Linked DNA regions of Homo sapiens: region 1 is linked to region 2. The links come from fine-mapping of genetic effects on gene expression. Tissue or cell type: whole blood. Region 2 holds a variant in brackets; the other region holds the start of a gene. All regions are shown on one strand. Distances are between the middles of the regions.

Region 1 (8,092 bases), 29 kb before region 2:
TTTTCAAATTACCAAGATAATAGTATCCCAGTGAGAGTTGTGATTAGTCTAAACTCTCCACAGCTGTGAGAGATGAATGTACAAATTCCAATAAAGATTCTGCATGTTCTGGGCTGAATTTACCTACATGACATCGAGGCCTAATTCAGGGACCACTTAAAAGAACTGGAGCTGCTTCGGTGCTACTCCATTCTTCCATGGCATCAGCTGCTAGGAGGCTTGCAACTGATCCAGGAGGATGCCTCCCCTCATGCCAATGTCACCGCCCACCAGTGGGTATTTGTTTAAAAGGCCTGCAGTATGCAGGGGAAAGATGCAGGGAAGGGAAAATTAAACCTAAGTACATGGGAATTCAAAGAAGCCTTGCAATTCATTATGTGAGCAGCCAGGGAGATTACAGAACACCTTGTAACTGAAGCAGTTGGCCTGAGGCGGCGTGGGACAGCAGAACCAGCTGCCTCACCACCTCTAACTCATTTATAATGGTGCTAGCAAGAAACCAGGCTCAGAGAGTTCTTCAGATTCTTGGGAAAGCCAACAGTGCTTTGGTTTCCTAATTTGGACACCTTTTACCTAAAATACTTCCTTGAATACTAAGTGAATGTAATAATACATGACATGCCCCTTTACCATGTTTTTTGTTTTGTTTTTAAGACAGTCTCATTCTCTTACCCAGGCTAAAGTTCAGTGGCACTATCTCGGCTCACTGCGGCCTCCACCTCCTGAGCTCAAGCCATCCTCCCACCTCAGTCTACCACATACCTGGGACCACAGGTGCAGCGCTGCCATGCCTGGCTAATTTTTGTAATTTTTTTGTTAGAGACAGCGTTTTGCCATGTCACCTGGGCTGTCTCAAACTCCTGGGCTCAAGTGATCCGCTCGCCTTGGCCTCCCAAAGTACTGGGATTACAGGCATGAGCCACGGCACCCGGTCTCCTTTACCATGTTAATAATTGTATCACCTGGAGGCACTTGCCTATTCTTTACGAAATACCTGACACTCAGCATGCTTTCCATGACTGGGAAAGACAGGGGACAAGGATTCACGACATTGTCTACACACGTTAACAATTATGGAGAAAGAAATAAGATTGTTAGTTAAACAGAAAGTTATACCAAAGGAATTTATAGCCCGGTTTAAAAAAAAATGATCTAATAGGATTTGCCTGAATGTAGAATCTTCTAAAGCCACACTACCTTCATCTTATACATCCACATCCATTGTTTAGAGCCCACTGAATTTTTAACTGTATAACTTTCTTTCTGACATCTGGAGATTTTAATAGTGCACTGTAATTTTACAGTTTATCACACAGCCATACACATATGTTACTCTTATGTGACATATGGCATTTCTCCTTGTAGACTCTGAACTCAACCTTTCACTCTCGGTGGCAAACCAGAAAGAGAACATGACTCAAGTCAGGAGACCCACCGGAGAGTTGAATGAGCCATAAATGAAATTCTCAAAATACCAAACTCTGGATGATCCATACATCCATTTTATTAAAATGGGAGTGGGCAGGAATGGAAAACCAAGTATCATATGTTCTCACTCGTAAGTAGGAGTTAATTTATGGGTACACAAAGGCATACAGAGTGGCATAATGGACACTGGAGACTCAGAAGAGAGGAGGACGGGTGAGGGGTAAAGGATAGTAACACTATCTATTGGAGGCTGGGTGTGATGGCTCACGCCTGTAATCCCAGCACTTTGGGAGGCTGAGGCGGGCGGATCACCTGAGGTCAGGAGTTCGAGACCAGCCTGAACAGCATGGAGAAACCCTGTCTCTACTAAAAATACAAAATTAGCCCGGCATGGTGGCACATGCCTGTAATCCCAGCTACTTGGGAGGCTGAGGCAGGAGAATCACTTGAACCCAGGAAGCAGAGGTTGTGGTGAGCAGAGATCAAACCATTGCACACTCCAGCCTGGGCAGCAAGAGCAAAACTCCGTCTGGGAAAAAAAAAAAAAAAAAAAGAACACTACCTTTTGGGTATAATGTACACTACTCGGGTGACAGGTGCACTAAAATTTCAGACTTCACCACTATACAATTCATCCATGTAACCAAAAACCGCTTGTACCCCAAAAGCTACTGAAAGTAAATAAAATCAATAAAATGAAATTTTAAAATGTAAACGGAATAAATTATCCAATCAAAAGACCAGAAAAATGGGAGTAGAAGTGAGGGAGCGAGGGAACACACTAATTTTTTTCTAATATACACAAAAAACAAAACACAGAAAACCAGAAACATTTTCTCTTTTATTTTTTCACCATCTCTCATTGCAAATCTTCTACACGCTAATAGATTCTTTTTTTTTTTTTTTTTTTTTTTTGAGACGGAGTCTCGCTCTGTGGCCCAAGCTGGAGTGCTGTGGCGCGATCTTGGCTCACTGCAAGCTCCGCCTCCCGGGTTCACGCCATTCTCCTGCCTCAACCTCCCGAGTAGCTGCCAGTACAGGCGCCCGCCACCACGCTCAGCTAATTTTTTGTATTTTTAGTAAAGACGGGGTTTCACCGTGTTAGCCAGGATGGTCTCCATCTCCTGACCTCGTGATCCGCCCGCCTCGGCCTCCCAAAGTGCTGGGATTACAGGCGTGAGCCACCGCGCCCGGCCGCTAACAGATACTTTCAACATTGGTACAGATCCCCTCAGATTTCATCTTCTCAAGAGCAAAATCAAATCATTAATGTAAGCCTGTTAAACTGGATGGCCACTAACTATGACTTCCCCTGGAACCATGTTGCAAGGACCGCTTTTTCAAGCAGCTTTTCCTTGCCTTTCTGCTAGAGACCGGTTCTAGGTAAAATCGCCCAGCAAGGCAACTTGGAAAAAAACTTTAAAAAATTAATTAGTTGGAAATCATAGAATATGCCAGGATTCTAGACAAATAACTAGTGTCCGAGTCCCCTCCTTGCCCCAACATTGTCTCCCCACCCTCTAGAGTTCTCTACTCTGACTACAAGGGTAATACATGTCAGGGTGCCTCTAGGATACTACTTAAGCATCCTGACAGTGTCTGATCTGAGTGGTCAGTGCTCAATGTTAAGTATTTTGCATAAAAATGCTAGTTTCCCCTGTGTGTGTAAATATACATATATGTTTATATGCATATTTGTGTGTGTGTGTGTGTGTGTGTGTGTGTGTGTGTTTAGGCCAGGATTCTAATAGCTAAAACAAAGATTCAGAGACAATAAATAGAGCAGCCCTGCAGAAAAGGGGAGTGTTGCCTTGCTGAGAATATTCACAGTTGGTCTGATGGTAACATGGGGTGTTCTACTAAATGACAGTTTGATCTAGATGATTTGTTTGTTCAAAGTATCTTTCATCTCCTAGGGATAAAAAGCCCTGCTTTGTCACATTTGCAATTTCCCTCATGTAAATAACACCCACTATGGCTCATTTCAAGCTTCCCAAGTGACATCACTGAATGGAAAGTTAAAGAGAGAAAGTCTTTCAGATGTAAACAATCTCAATTATATTTATAAATAATAGTAAAAGGTAGTGGAATCACTAGCATATGAATTTTGAGTATCATATTTGCTTTTAACATAATGTAATTGCAAGTTTGCATAATTTAATATTTAATAATAATTGCATTTAACAACTAGCTCCCAAAATCCTTGAAAATTTATCACTGGGTAGGAGTGAGCATGTCCCATTGGCTCCAGCACACCACTACATGTTGCTCTTCAGGGACCTTAAAAGATACTTTGAACAAACAAATCATCTGGATCAAACTATCTCCAGAGTTCCCAAGGGTGCCAACCTCTTTGCTACCCCACTTTAGAAATACCCAAAACACAGGTTAAACTATGCACAGTATTTATTAAGAATGCCATTTACAATACCTTACACTTGTATCACGCTTTACACTTTTCAAAGTAGTGCTTTTATGGCACGGTGGGACTGTCTGACCCTGCAGAGTGAATTTAAATCGCTGGGTAATAGCTTTTTAATGTATAATGGGTGAAAAGATAGTCCTGGGAGCCGTTTGTCAAAGAGAAAGGCGAAGGAGTGGAACTGGCAGCCCCACAAGGAAGTCGGGAAGCTGGTTGGCCCCTACCCGGTTCCTGGTTCTCTCCTGGAAATGGCTCCAACATTGTGCAAGCAAGTGGGTGTGCAATAGTTTTGAGCACGCATCTCTCTCTCTGTCTCTCTCTCTCTCTCTCTCGGATTTAATTAGAATTTCCGTTTTTTCCAACAAAGAGTTGGACGGGATACGTTCTAAGACTTTTACAAACTGTAAAATGATGAGCGAGGTAACATTCAAATATGCTCTTAACAGAACAGCTCAGTAATGGTTTCCTCCACATCAAAACGTGCCTATTGCTGCAGCAGACGCTTATGCAGAGTCTACATGCACTCTCACCGCAAAAATTCACACAGCCAGTAGTCGTGGCCGAGTGGTTAAGGCGATGGACTAGAAATCCATTGGGGTCTCCCCGCGCAGGTTCGAATCCTGCCGACTACGGGAATGTCAGCTTTTTGCCGTCAACACTTACTTTTTGTGTTTTAGAGCGTTCTGCTCAAACCTTCCACAGATTTCAGGAATTTACAAACGGCTGAAACACAACAGGGACCCAAACGGGAGAGGAGAGAATGAAGGGGCGAGAATGCGTGCTTGTGGTTACAACGTGGGCCCGGGAGGGGGAGACGGGAGGAACCACGCCAGACATGCTGAAAGGAAGAAACGCAAAGCATCGCGAGTCACACAGACACACTGCAGAGACAGCTCCGAACTCTGTCCCTGCATACGCCCGCCCCTCACGAACCCACCGCGTTCTCTGCCGCGAGCCCTCGTGGGCGCCGGGTTGCCACGGGAAGCGGTGCGCATGCGCGGGGACGCCTAACGGGGCAGGAGCCCGCCAGGTCCCCTCGTTACTCCTGGAAACCACCGGAGCCTTGGCGATTGGAGGGGAAAAGGCCAGGCGATTCAAGATGGCGGAGGACCTGGACGAGCTCTTGGATGAAGTCGAGTCCAAGTTTTGCACACCTGACCTTCTAAGACGGGGTATGGTCGAGCAGCCCAAAGGCTGCGGCGGCGGCACCCACAGTAGCGACCGGAACCAAGCCAAGGCGAAAGAGACGCTCAGGTTAACCGGGCGGGAGGGGTGGACTGTTCTGGTAAAGCCCTGCTCCAGGCCCTAGAGCTGCCCCTCCGCCGCCCAACCCAAAAGAAACGTGCCCGCGACCTCCAGCCCCTCCTTGCATCAGGGTTCAGACCCTCAGCGCCCTACCCTCCGCGGCAGCGCATTCGTCGACCCTCTTCGCGGATTCTGGCACCTCTTCACTCAGCGCAGACTCCGCCCCCCGGCATGCCCCAGAGGGCTGGCCCCCGCCCCGCCCCGCCCCGCCCCGCCCCGCCCCGCCCCGCCCGCAGAGCCCGCAGTCCGCGCCAGTCTCCTTCATCCTGTTTCTGGCTGCCAGCGCGTAGGAGGTTCTAGTCGGGGACCGGGATACCCCTCAGGCGCCCCGTTCTTAACCCCGAGAGGGCTGTGCTGACCTCGGCCGCATTTTGCCTCTGTGTGGCCAAGCGGTTCTCATCTCCCTGTGAGGTGCCCTGTTAGACAGCCTCATCCCATTGCCTCAGACCCCACTCCCCAGGTCAATCCTATTTGTCTTTAGCTCAGTTTTGTTGTTTTGTTTGTTTTTTGAGATGGAGTCTCGCTCTGTCGCCCAGGTTGGAGTGCAGTGGCACGATCGTAGCTCACTGCAGCCTCCAACTCCCGGGTTCAAAGATCCTCCCACCTCGGCCTACCCTAGCTGGGATTACAGGCACGAGCCTGTAATCTGGGATTACGTAAACTGGGATTACAGGCACGAGCCCGGTTAATTTGTATTTTTTGTAGAGACAGTCTCACTGTGTTGGCCAGGCTGGTCTTGAACTCCTGAGTTCAAGCTGTCCTCCCGCCTCTGCCTCCCCTAACTGCTAGGATTACAGTTGCGAGCCATCGCACCTGACTCAGTTTGTTTTATTTTTTTAACTCAGGGAGTTAAGATGAGATTAAATTCATTACAAAAGGGTTAATTATTGTGAACATTAAACCGTCTACCTTCCTTCTCTCCATGGCCCCCTAGTTAAGGGTGCCAGACATACATATGGAAATTTAAGGACATTTCTTAAGGTATTTTGGTTTTTTATCTAAAAACTACCTTTCAAATTTACCAGTCGTTTTTCCTCCATGTAATTATTAAATAATAGGATTTCCTTCACTTCCTCATTTCCCCCACAACCCCTCAAAAAAAAAAAACAAAATGTTTGCATAAGAATATTGACCTTCAGTAACTCTTGCTAGAATCTTTTGGAAATTGCCTCTTGCCTAGAATATTTTGGAAACGCTTGTGAAATTACACGGAGGCAACTTTGGATCAATCTAAGAACGTCATCTCCGTTAATTTTTTTGCTGCATCTTTGGTTTGGTTTTGGTTTTTTGGTGTGTGTATGTGTGATTTCCCAAAGTATTATCCAACTCTGTTACTATCCAGTTCACCTGGCTTACCTCCAGTGATATTTATTTATTTTATTTACTTATTTATTTATTTTTGAGTTTCGCTCTGTCGCCCAGGCTGGAGTGCAGTGGCCCACCTCAGCTCACTGCAAGCTCCGCCTCCCATTCCCCTGCCTCAGCCTCCCGAGTAGCTGAGACTACAGGCGCCCGCCACCACGCCTGGCTAATTTTTTGTATTTCTGGTAGAAACGGGGTTTCACCGTGTTAGCCAGGATGGTCTCGATCTCCTGACCTCGTGATCCACCCACCTCGGCCTCCCAAAGTGCTGGGATTACAGGCATGAGCCACCGTGCCCAGTCAGTGACATTTATTTATAAAAATTCACTCTGCGAAGATAAAAGCATCGAAAAAATTCTAAAGGAGTACATAAACAAAATTTCTAAAAATTAGTTGAGTTCTGAGCAGCATTTTAAAACAAAAATTAGAAACAACTATAATTACTATGAATGGGCTAACACTCATTTGGCTGGATGTTGTAAATATCACTCTCATTAACTTTTATTATCTTGTGTACTGGAATTCCTTATGTATCTATTAGCGCATCTACCATCCCTATCCCACAACAGTGTTGCTTTGCAATTTCTTTAGTACTTTTCGTTTGTCCTTCTAGGGGATAGAACTAGTCTATCAAGGAGCTTTTCAGAGCTGTTCATCTTAGGAGAACTAGCATGCGGAGGGGCAGGATGTATTGAAGCCAGCTGCTCAAAATGGAAAGGACTATTTATGTGGATCTTCTCCAACCATGGGTTGTGTCATGCCTGTTCTTGCTCTACTAAAATTCATCCATAATATTTCTAGTACCTCAGCCCACCTTAATACATTAGATTTTTTTAGTACTAAGTAACATAAAAGCCTTAGTGAAACAGTACTGTTGTCATTTATATTAAAACTTTTCATCTGGCAATGTAGTTGTAAATTGTACAAAAAACAGCAACAAAGGGCCTAAACCTTATACCAAATATAGTCCCAACCTGGTTTATAATGTTATATATTAAAATTTTTCCTTGAGCCAAAATTTATACTTAAAAGCTAGGAAGCAATTTATGTTTGAATTTATTGACAGGAGATTACCTACTAATTGTATAGCAGTGTAACCTGTATCTCTTATAAGAGTTAAAATACTAATATTACCTCTTAAAATGATACTATAAATGCAAATAATACTATAAATGACCATGCTACATCTGGATACCAGGAACAACTGCTAATGTAAGAGGTCAAAACATGCAATTTGTTGAAGTGTTCAAAATGATAAAAAGAAATATGTGATTAGTAAAAAAATTAAAAAAGACTGATGTGGGTTGAGAAGAACTGCAATAGGAATAAAGTGGTTCAGGATGATACAGATGGGAATATTTAAAGATAATATAGCTTTCTAGATGATAACTATAATAACAGCCAACATTTATTGAGCTCTTTCTGTATGCTAAGTGCTTTGTATATGTTATTTCATTTAATCTTCACAATCCCATGCGTGAATACTGTTATCCCCATTTCATTGACCAAATCAATGCTTAGTTACTTGCCTAAAGTCATATTGCTAAATCACAAGGACATAGTAGATCTAGATTT
Region 2 (8,107 bases):
CCAGGTAACTTCTTTATTTGAACTGTATTATACTCTCAGACCCTCATCCTGCCTAGAAATGAATAAGTAATAAATAATTACTCTGTATTATTTACTTCTTTTATTTTATAGTAAAATATTCATTTGGATGGACATTAATTTGAAATCATTTTGATGTTTTTTTTTTTTGAGACAGAGTCTCTCTCTGTTGCCCAGACTAGAGTGCAGTGGTGCAATCATAGCTCACTGCTTCCTTGAACTCCTGAGCTAAAGCGATCCTCCCACCTCAGCCTCCCAAAGTGCTGGGATTACAGGTGTGAAGCACCATGCCCAGTCAAAAAAAATTTTTTTAATGTCAACAGAAAAGTTTCCAAGCATCCAGTTAAACAGATAATTTGTCTACACTGGGGAGGAGAAGTATGCCATAACTCTGATGTGTGTGTGTGTGTGTGTGTGTGTGTGTGTGTGTGTGTGTACATGCATGTGTAAAGAGAGTATGTGTGTGCATGCATGTGTAAAGTACCATGGGTATTCAAAGGAACAGGTCCAAGTTTAGGAAGAACAGGCCATGCTGACTTGGCGGTGTATACCTAGAACCTGTTCGTTGATGTCAGTAAACTTAGTACCTTTTTTTCTTAGGCCAGAGAATATGTCATCAGACTATGAATCTGAATTGCTTTCTCTCTTTTTCTTACTGATATTTAAGAATATGAAAGAAAAAGGTCTTTGTATCCAAAAGCATTGTGATGAAGCTTAGCCATGAATTTCAAATGCTGATATTTCTAATGTTTTAACAAAATCTCTATCAGCCAACCTAATGCTCCCAGTAATCAGCAATATCTCTTGTATAAAATAGTTCCTGAAAGAAAAAATTTAAAATACGCAATCTCTTTAGAGATTTCATATCTTATTGTATTTCATTGGGTTTGTGACATCATTTTGTGCCCTATTTTAAGAATGCACTAGAAAAACCAAAAAAGAAAAAAGATTGCATTAGATATGTATATATACAAGTACATGATAATTAAATTTGACTTTCCCCAAATGCCTTGAGATAAGGGATGACCAAATGAAGTTTAACAAAGTCAGAGTTCAGAGTCGTGTCCCTTAGAAAGTCACATGACATTTTGGGCTTCGTTCGCCTTAACTGTATGAATTATAATACCACTTTTGTAAGTTTGTTGTAAGGATTAAATCATATAACACATGAAAAGTGACTAGCATAGTGTTTGGTTCAGAATAGGTGCTTAATAAATGTTCTCATTCTTTTGTTATTATTATACTTTAAGTACTGGGATACATGTGCAGAACGTGCAGGTTACGTGCAGGTTTGTTAAATAATTATACACGTGCCAGGGTGGTTTGCTGCACCCATCAACCTGTCATCTATGTTAGGTATTTCTCCTAATGCTATCCCTCCCCTAGCCCCCTAGCCCCCAACCAGCCTCTGGTGTGTAATGTTCCCCTCCCTGTGTCCATGTGTTCTCATTGTTCAACTCCCACTTATGAGTGAGAACATGCAGTGTTTGGTTTTCTGTTCTTGTGTTAGTTTGCTGAGATGGTTTCCAGCTTCATCCATGTCCCTGCAAAGGACATGAACTCATCCTTTTTTATGGCTGCATAGTATTCCATGGTGTATATGTGCCACATTTTCTTTATCCAGTCTATCATTAATGGGCATTTGGGTTGGTTCCCAGTCTTTGTTATTGTGAATAGTACTGCAGTAAACATACGTGTGCATGTGTCTTTATAGTAGAATGATTTATAATCCTTTGGGTATATACCCAGTAATGGGATTGAACTTCTGGTTCTAGATCCTTGAGGAATCGCCACACTGTCTTCCACAATGGTTTGTTCTCATTCTTTTTCCTTTTAAAATAAATACTGTCTAAATTGAAGTAATAGTGCAGCATGATTCTTACAACAAGTAATTTGTAAAGATGTTTGTTTTATTTATTCCCTATGAGGAAAGCAGCAATGCGATCATTTATTTATAACTAGTGACTGTACACATGGCGACCTTTATTTTATATAAGTTGAAGCCACAACTTTTCTATTAAAAAAAAAAAAAAAGATGCTCCCCCTAGCCTGCCTCTTTCTGTGTGGCTTAAACCTAAGTGGGTCATCATGAAGGCATTCAGGCCTTTCACGATATCTTTTCAGTTTCATCTGCCTCTGCTTTCCTCCTTCTCCAACCAAACTGCGTACCTGCTGTTCTTCAGATATACTCCCTCATCTTATCCTTTCAAAATCCAACTCATTTTTCAAAGCCAGTATCTTGTACAACAGCAGTTCTCAAAGTGAGTTCCACTCTCAGGGGTCTTTCAGGTAGTCCACAAGATCAAATCTATTTTGAGTCAGAAGATATCAGTTTCCTTCTTCACTGTGTTGACGTTTGCGCAGATGGCGGAAATGGTAGCTAGCACTGCTGGCACCTGACTTAGCACCATTCAAAGCAATGATGCTATGCACCTCCCATAAAAAAAAAGCCAGTTTCAGTTAAGAATGTCCTTGATAAAGGCAGTAAAAATTATTATCTTAGCCTTCAACAACTTGTCTTTTAAATATTCTGAGTGACTAAATGGGAAGTACAACTAAAGCACTTGAGCAATTGTCTGAGTTGTGAGCTGAATGAACTGCTTTTTTCGTTGAACCCATTTTTGCCTAAAACAACAGCTGACAGACAAAAACTATGAGTACTCAGAAAAGTAATAATATGAGTCTCCTTCAAGAAAATAACTGACAGAATGTTAAGTGAAAATTAGAATTTCAAAATATTTGTATCCACTGCGAGCATGTCCCCATTATTTAAATTCTTTCCAGATAAGACTAGTGGTGATATTAACAAGCAATTTTTTATACTATATAATGAAATGTGACAATATTTGGAAGATCTGTATAATTCAGCAAACCAGTATTGCCAAAAGAACCAATACATGATATAACAAAACTATACATTTAAAATGCAAGACAGACCAATAGATTTTAACATAACTGCATGCTGAAAGTTCATTTGATATGATTTCAGTTTCTACATTGCAGCTAACTTTTAAGAAACTACTCCTTGTGAAGTTTTGATGTAGTATTGATAAATAGGTACAGTTATCTGAAAAGACTATTAAAATACTATCCTCTTTTCCAACT[G/A]TAAGTCTGCATGAGGCTGAGTTTTCTTCTAAGGCCTCAGCCAAAACAACCTATGTCAAGAGAGCGAATGAGCAGTAAATATGAGAATCCAGCTGTCTTCTGTTAAGCCAGAGATTAAACAGAGCAGCAGAAATAGAAAACAAATGTCACGCTTGTCACTGCATTTGTTTTGGAAAATGTAGTTATTTTCATAAAAATGTGATAACATATAATGGGTTTATTATTTTTAAGTATAGTCAATGTATATTTTTAATGTTCTTAGTTTTAATTACTAATACAGTAAAAATCAATAGATATAACCCCAAAAAACCAAGCTCTTGGGGTTAAGAATGTAAAAGGGCCAAAAACATACACTAAGGAAAAGACAATAAATGATGCTGGGAAAACTGGATATCCCTCTGCAGAAGAATGAAACTAGACCTCTATCTCTTGCCCTATACAAAAATCAAACCAAAATGGATTAAAGATTTAAATGTAAGACCTCAAACTATGAAACTACTAAAAGAAAACATTGGGATACACTCCAGGACATTGGTCTGGGCAAATATTTCTTGAGCAATACCCCACAACCATAGGCAATCAAAGCAAACATAGACAAATGGGATCATATCAAATTAAAAAGTTTCTGCACAGCAAAGGAGACAACCAACAAAGCGAAGAGACAACCCACAGGATGGGAGAAAATATTTGCAAACTTTCCATCTTACAAAGGATTAATAACCAGAATATATAAGGAGCCCAAACAGTTCCATAGGAAAAAACTAATAATCCAATCAAAAATGGGCAAAAGATTTGAATGGACATTTCTTAAAAGAAGACATACAAATGACCAGTAGGCATATGAAAAAGTGCTTAACATCATTGATCGTCAGAGAAATGCAAATCAAAACTACAGCAAAATATCATCTTGTACCAGTTAAAATGGCTTGTATCCAAAAGACGGGTAATAACAAATGCTGGTGAGGATGTGAAGAAAAGGGAACCCTTGTACACTGTTGGTAGGAATGTAAATTAGTACAACCACTATGGAGAACAGCCTAGAAGTTCCTCAAAAAACTAAAAATTGAGCTACCATATGATCCAGCAATCCCACTGCTGGGTATGTACACAAAAGAAAGGAAATCAATATATTGAAGAGGTATCTGCACTCCTATGTTTGTTGCAGCTCTGTTTACAATAGAAGCAACCTAAGTGTTCGTCAACAGATGAATGGATAAAGAAAATGTGGTACATATACACACCGGAGTACTATTCAGCCATAAAAATGAATGAGACCCAGTCACTTGCAACAACATGGATGAAACTGGAGATGATTATGTTAAGTGAAATAAGCCAGACACAAACATCACATCTTCTCACTTATTTGTAGGATCTAAAAATCAAAACAAGGAACTCATGGACATAGAGAGTAGAAGGGTAGTTACCAGAGGGTGGGAAGGGTAGTGGGGACCTGGCAGGGTAGGTAAGATGGTTAATGGGTACAAAAAAAAATAGGAAGAATGAATAAGACCTACTATTTGATAGCACCACAGAGTGACTACAGTAAATACATAATTAATAATTAATTGTACATTTTTAAATAACTTACAGAGTATAATTGAGTTGCTTGTAACCCAAAGAATAAATGCTCGAGGGGATGGATACCCCATTCTCTATGATGTGCTTATTTCGCATTGCATCCCTGTATCAAAACATCTCATATACTCCCATAAATATATACACCTACTGTGTACCCACAAATATTTTTTTAAAAAATTTTAAGTGTAAAAAAGTTATGAGACGAAAAAGGTTGAGAACCGTTGTACACAATCCTGATTACCCTTCCTAGGCCACCCTACCGCAGCCTAAAGATGTAATTTCTCCCTCTCCCATCTGCTTTCAGACTTTGTTTCTCATATAATACCTTGAATTGTAATTATTTGTGTGCTTATTGTATTGATCTTGGAGATTAGATTTCAAGTTCTTTAAAGTCTCTGAGTGGTACAGGGGAAACTGGGAGAGTTTTGTCACTAACTTCCTGGGATCACTGTAAGTAAGCCAGAGTGTCTTTGGGCTCATCTGTGAAAAGAGGGTTGGATTATTAAGTTTTCTTTGTTTGTTTGTTTCTTTGTTTGTTTTGAGATGTAGTTTCACTCTTGTTGCCCAAGCCGGAGTACAATGGCATGATCTAGGCTCACTGCAACCTCCACCTGCCAGGTTCAAGCAATTCTCCTGCCTCAGCCTCCCGAGTAGCTGGGATTACAGGTACCCACCACCATGCCCAGCTTATTTTTGTATTTTTAGTAGAGACGGGGTTTCACCATGTTAGCTAGGCTGGTCTTGAACTCCTGACCTCAGATGATCTGCCTGCCTCGGCCCCCCAAAGTGCTGGGATTACAGGCATGAGCCACCATACCCGGCCTCTTAAGTTTTCTTATAACTTGCAGATGGTATGAGTACTGTTCCTCTAAAAGTAGCTTGGTGCACCTGGTGTTGTCCTGTCCACACATTGGGAGATGTGATGTGTGTGGTGGGGAAGATCCCAGATTCTGGGGTCAGAGAGACATGGGTTCCAAAAGGCATCATCTATCTTCTCTGAGGCTGCACTAGAGACATAGGTAGGATTGACTTAAGAATTCAGTCTGTCCCATACAGTCCCATGAGATACAAATTGAACTAATTGTAAGAAGCAGTTGAGAGAGAAAAATGACAAGCACTTTTTCCAAGTGTGGTACTGAGAGTTATTCTCTCTCCTCTCCCAGAAGGATTGTATACCCTCACCTGTTGAACTCAGGAGGAGAAGAATGACATCCCACTCTTTGACATCCCACTCTTTGAGAATGAAAGGACCTCAGGAAGACAGTCCCAAGAAAGCCATGTTCAGTTAAGGCAGGGTGAGGGCACGAGGAGCTCACTTACCATGAAGCGGGCATTCCAGAAGGCATTTATGGCGAATAATTTGGCCAGGAGGCAACAGTGGGGGGTGGTAGGGGAGGCAGGGGATGGCAAGAGATGAGGAAGAACGAGCAGTATTAGGGTGAGAGCCTGGAAGGAACTCATATTTTAACCAAAAAACAATAGGGATCAGAGCCCTGGGGGGATTCAGCAGCCTTGATCTAACAGCAACTGGTCTCTGCTAGAACAAGGCGGTTTCCTTGTGTGATGTAAGCTCAGGCTCTGGCCCTGGGTGGTAGCTCAGGCTCTGGCCCTGGGTGGTAACCCAGGCTGCAGGGCAGGGAGGGAGGTGGGGGAGAGGGATTGTCACGTTGTTTGCATCCAGTCCAGCAGCCTACATCCTTTGCTCTCACTTTTGAGTAGAATCAATTTAAACAGAATCCAATTTGTTAGGAGACTGCGAAGTTCATCTCTGGCTAGAGAAGTACACAATACCCAAGAAAAAAATGTGTCGAAGTATTGTGTCTTTGGAAGGCCATTTCCAGGCGCTCTGAGTACTTGGGAATGAGGCCTAAGCACTAACTCTTACCAAGTCTTTGTTCATAAGAACAAGTTAGTATCAGGGATTAAGGGGATTGTGTGGTTCAGATAGATTTAAAAAGCAGGAAAGACTGAGGGTCCAGGCTTCAGTTTTGCTGGAGATTAATGCCAGAGAAGAGACATGGAAGAAACTGAGGCACAAAAACTTGCCCAAAATCACACAGGTTGTAAATAGCAGAGTAGTGTTCAGACCTAGCTCAGTTGAGTCACACAGGGCTTTCACCCTGGTATTCCCCCATTGAGCCTTGACAGACCAATAGATGAATACACTGGACTGTGAGAATATACAATCACAGTGTTACCAGAATAATACTTTCAGATATTTTGTGTGATTTTATTTAGAGGAACCAAGATACAGTGCCTGACTGTAGCTGTGTCTCAGGTTGTCTTCCCAATGCTCATGGACAGGCAGCAGATGAACAGTATGAGAAGGCCAGGTTAGGCACAGCAGGAAACAGTTCAGTGACCCATGAGTCAAGTCTGCCATGGGCTCAGGGGTGCGGAATGAGAGACTGCCATGGGTTTGCTAACACTGGCAGTCTCGGGACTGGGGGCTGGGTTCTTGTCTAGCTCAGTGCTTCTCCACTCTGGCCTCAGATAGAGTCAGCTGGAGAGCTTTAAAAAGTGCCAGTAACCCAGGCTTTAGGCCCAGAAAATCTGATTCATTAGTCTGCAGTGAGACCCAAGCATCGGTACTTTTCAACAACTCTCCCAATTATTCTAGCGTAGTACAGCCAGGGTTACAATCCACTAACAGCAATAAGACCTTGGGCATATCACTTCCCTCTTTGGGCTTTAGTATCCTCACCTATTAAAAAACAATTCTCTAAGAGTCCTTACTGCCAGTATAAAAATATGAGGTTATACTAAGTGATTTTTAATGTCCCTCCCAGAATAAAAGTTCCATGAATCTCTTTTCATAATGTAATCATTCAGAAAAGATTATTTCATTTAGGTTGAGTGTGTATTATGATCAATGTTTCTTTTAGTCCCCTAGAAACAGTCAATGCCAACTTCAAGGTTTGAGTTCCCTAATGACCAATTCACTTTACACAGAAAAAAGTAACAGCCTCCAAAGGTTGACAATACCAATTCCTCCCACTAGGAGAAGTATCTTAGAGTGCGTGGCCCTCTAGAAAGTGAGTCACTGGCACCATCTTCCATTGCAAAGAGCAGCACTTATTAGCAATGTTAGATAGAAAGCAGGACTCTAGAAAGTGGATGGAAAAAATAAAGAAAGTACATAACATAGAAACCATTTTAAGTTCTTAGAGTCAAGTAAAATTGACATTCACAGGTATGTAGGAAAAATTGTAAAAGATCTCTCAAAGAATATAATGTTTTATCCTTACATAATTTTTTGAGGGATGGGGGATTAGACAAGAGTTTTCCCCATGGAGTAAGGTATATTCTATCATAAATAGCTATAGCCTCAGCCTCTGGTGGTGGAAGGACCCCACAAACGCTTTTCAAGTCCCTTCCATCTGGCCTTGGTTTTCCTCCACAGCTG

What was found. PIP is the estimated chance that this variant, and not a neighbour inherited with it, causes the effect.
Region 1: it holds the start of CFAP418, and the variant in region 2 is fine-mapped to the expression of CFAP418 in whole blood (TOPMed, PIP 0.99).

What each region holds. Positions count from the first base shown.
Region 1 is chr8:95,266,047-95,274,138 of GRCh38, reverse strand. It overlaps CFAP418 (cilia and flagella associated protein 418), which reads left to right and starts at 4,938. Exons shown (of 6, transcript NM_177965.4): 1 at 4,938-5,104. The coding sequence starts at 4,950. It overlaps CFAP418-AS1 (CFAP418 antisense RNA 1), which reads right to left and starts at 5,303. Exons shown (of 4, transcript NR_038209.1): 1 at 5,249-5,303. It overlaps TRS-AGA2-5 (tRNA-Ser (anticodon AGA) 2-5), which reads left to right and starts at 4,401; the gene lies at 4,401-4,482. RefSeq lists enhancers at 4,197-4,276, 4,313-4,952, 4,907-5,346.
Region 2 is chr8:95,236,944-95,245,050 of GRCh38, reverse strand. CFAP418 (cilia and flagella associated protein 418) reads left to right here. Exons shown (of 6, transcript NM_177965.4): 6 at 1-138. Among named protein-coding and RNA genes, the nearest start is that of LINC01298, 25 kb to the right of the region's middle. The variant G/A (reference allele first, on the strand shown) is at 3,124.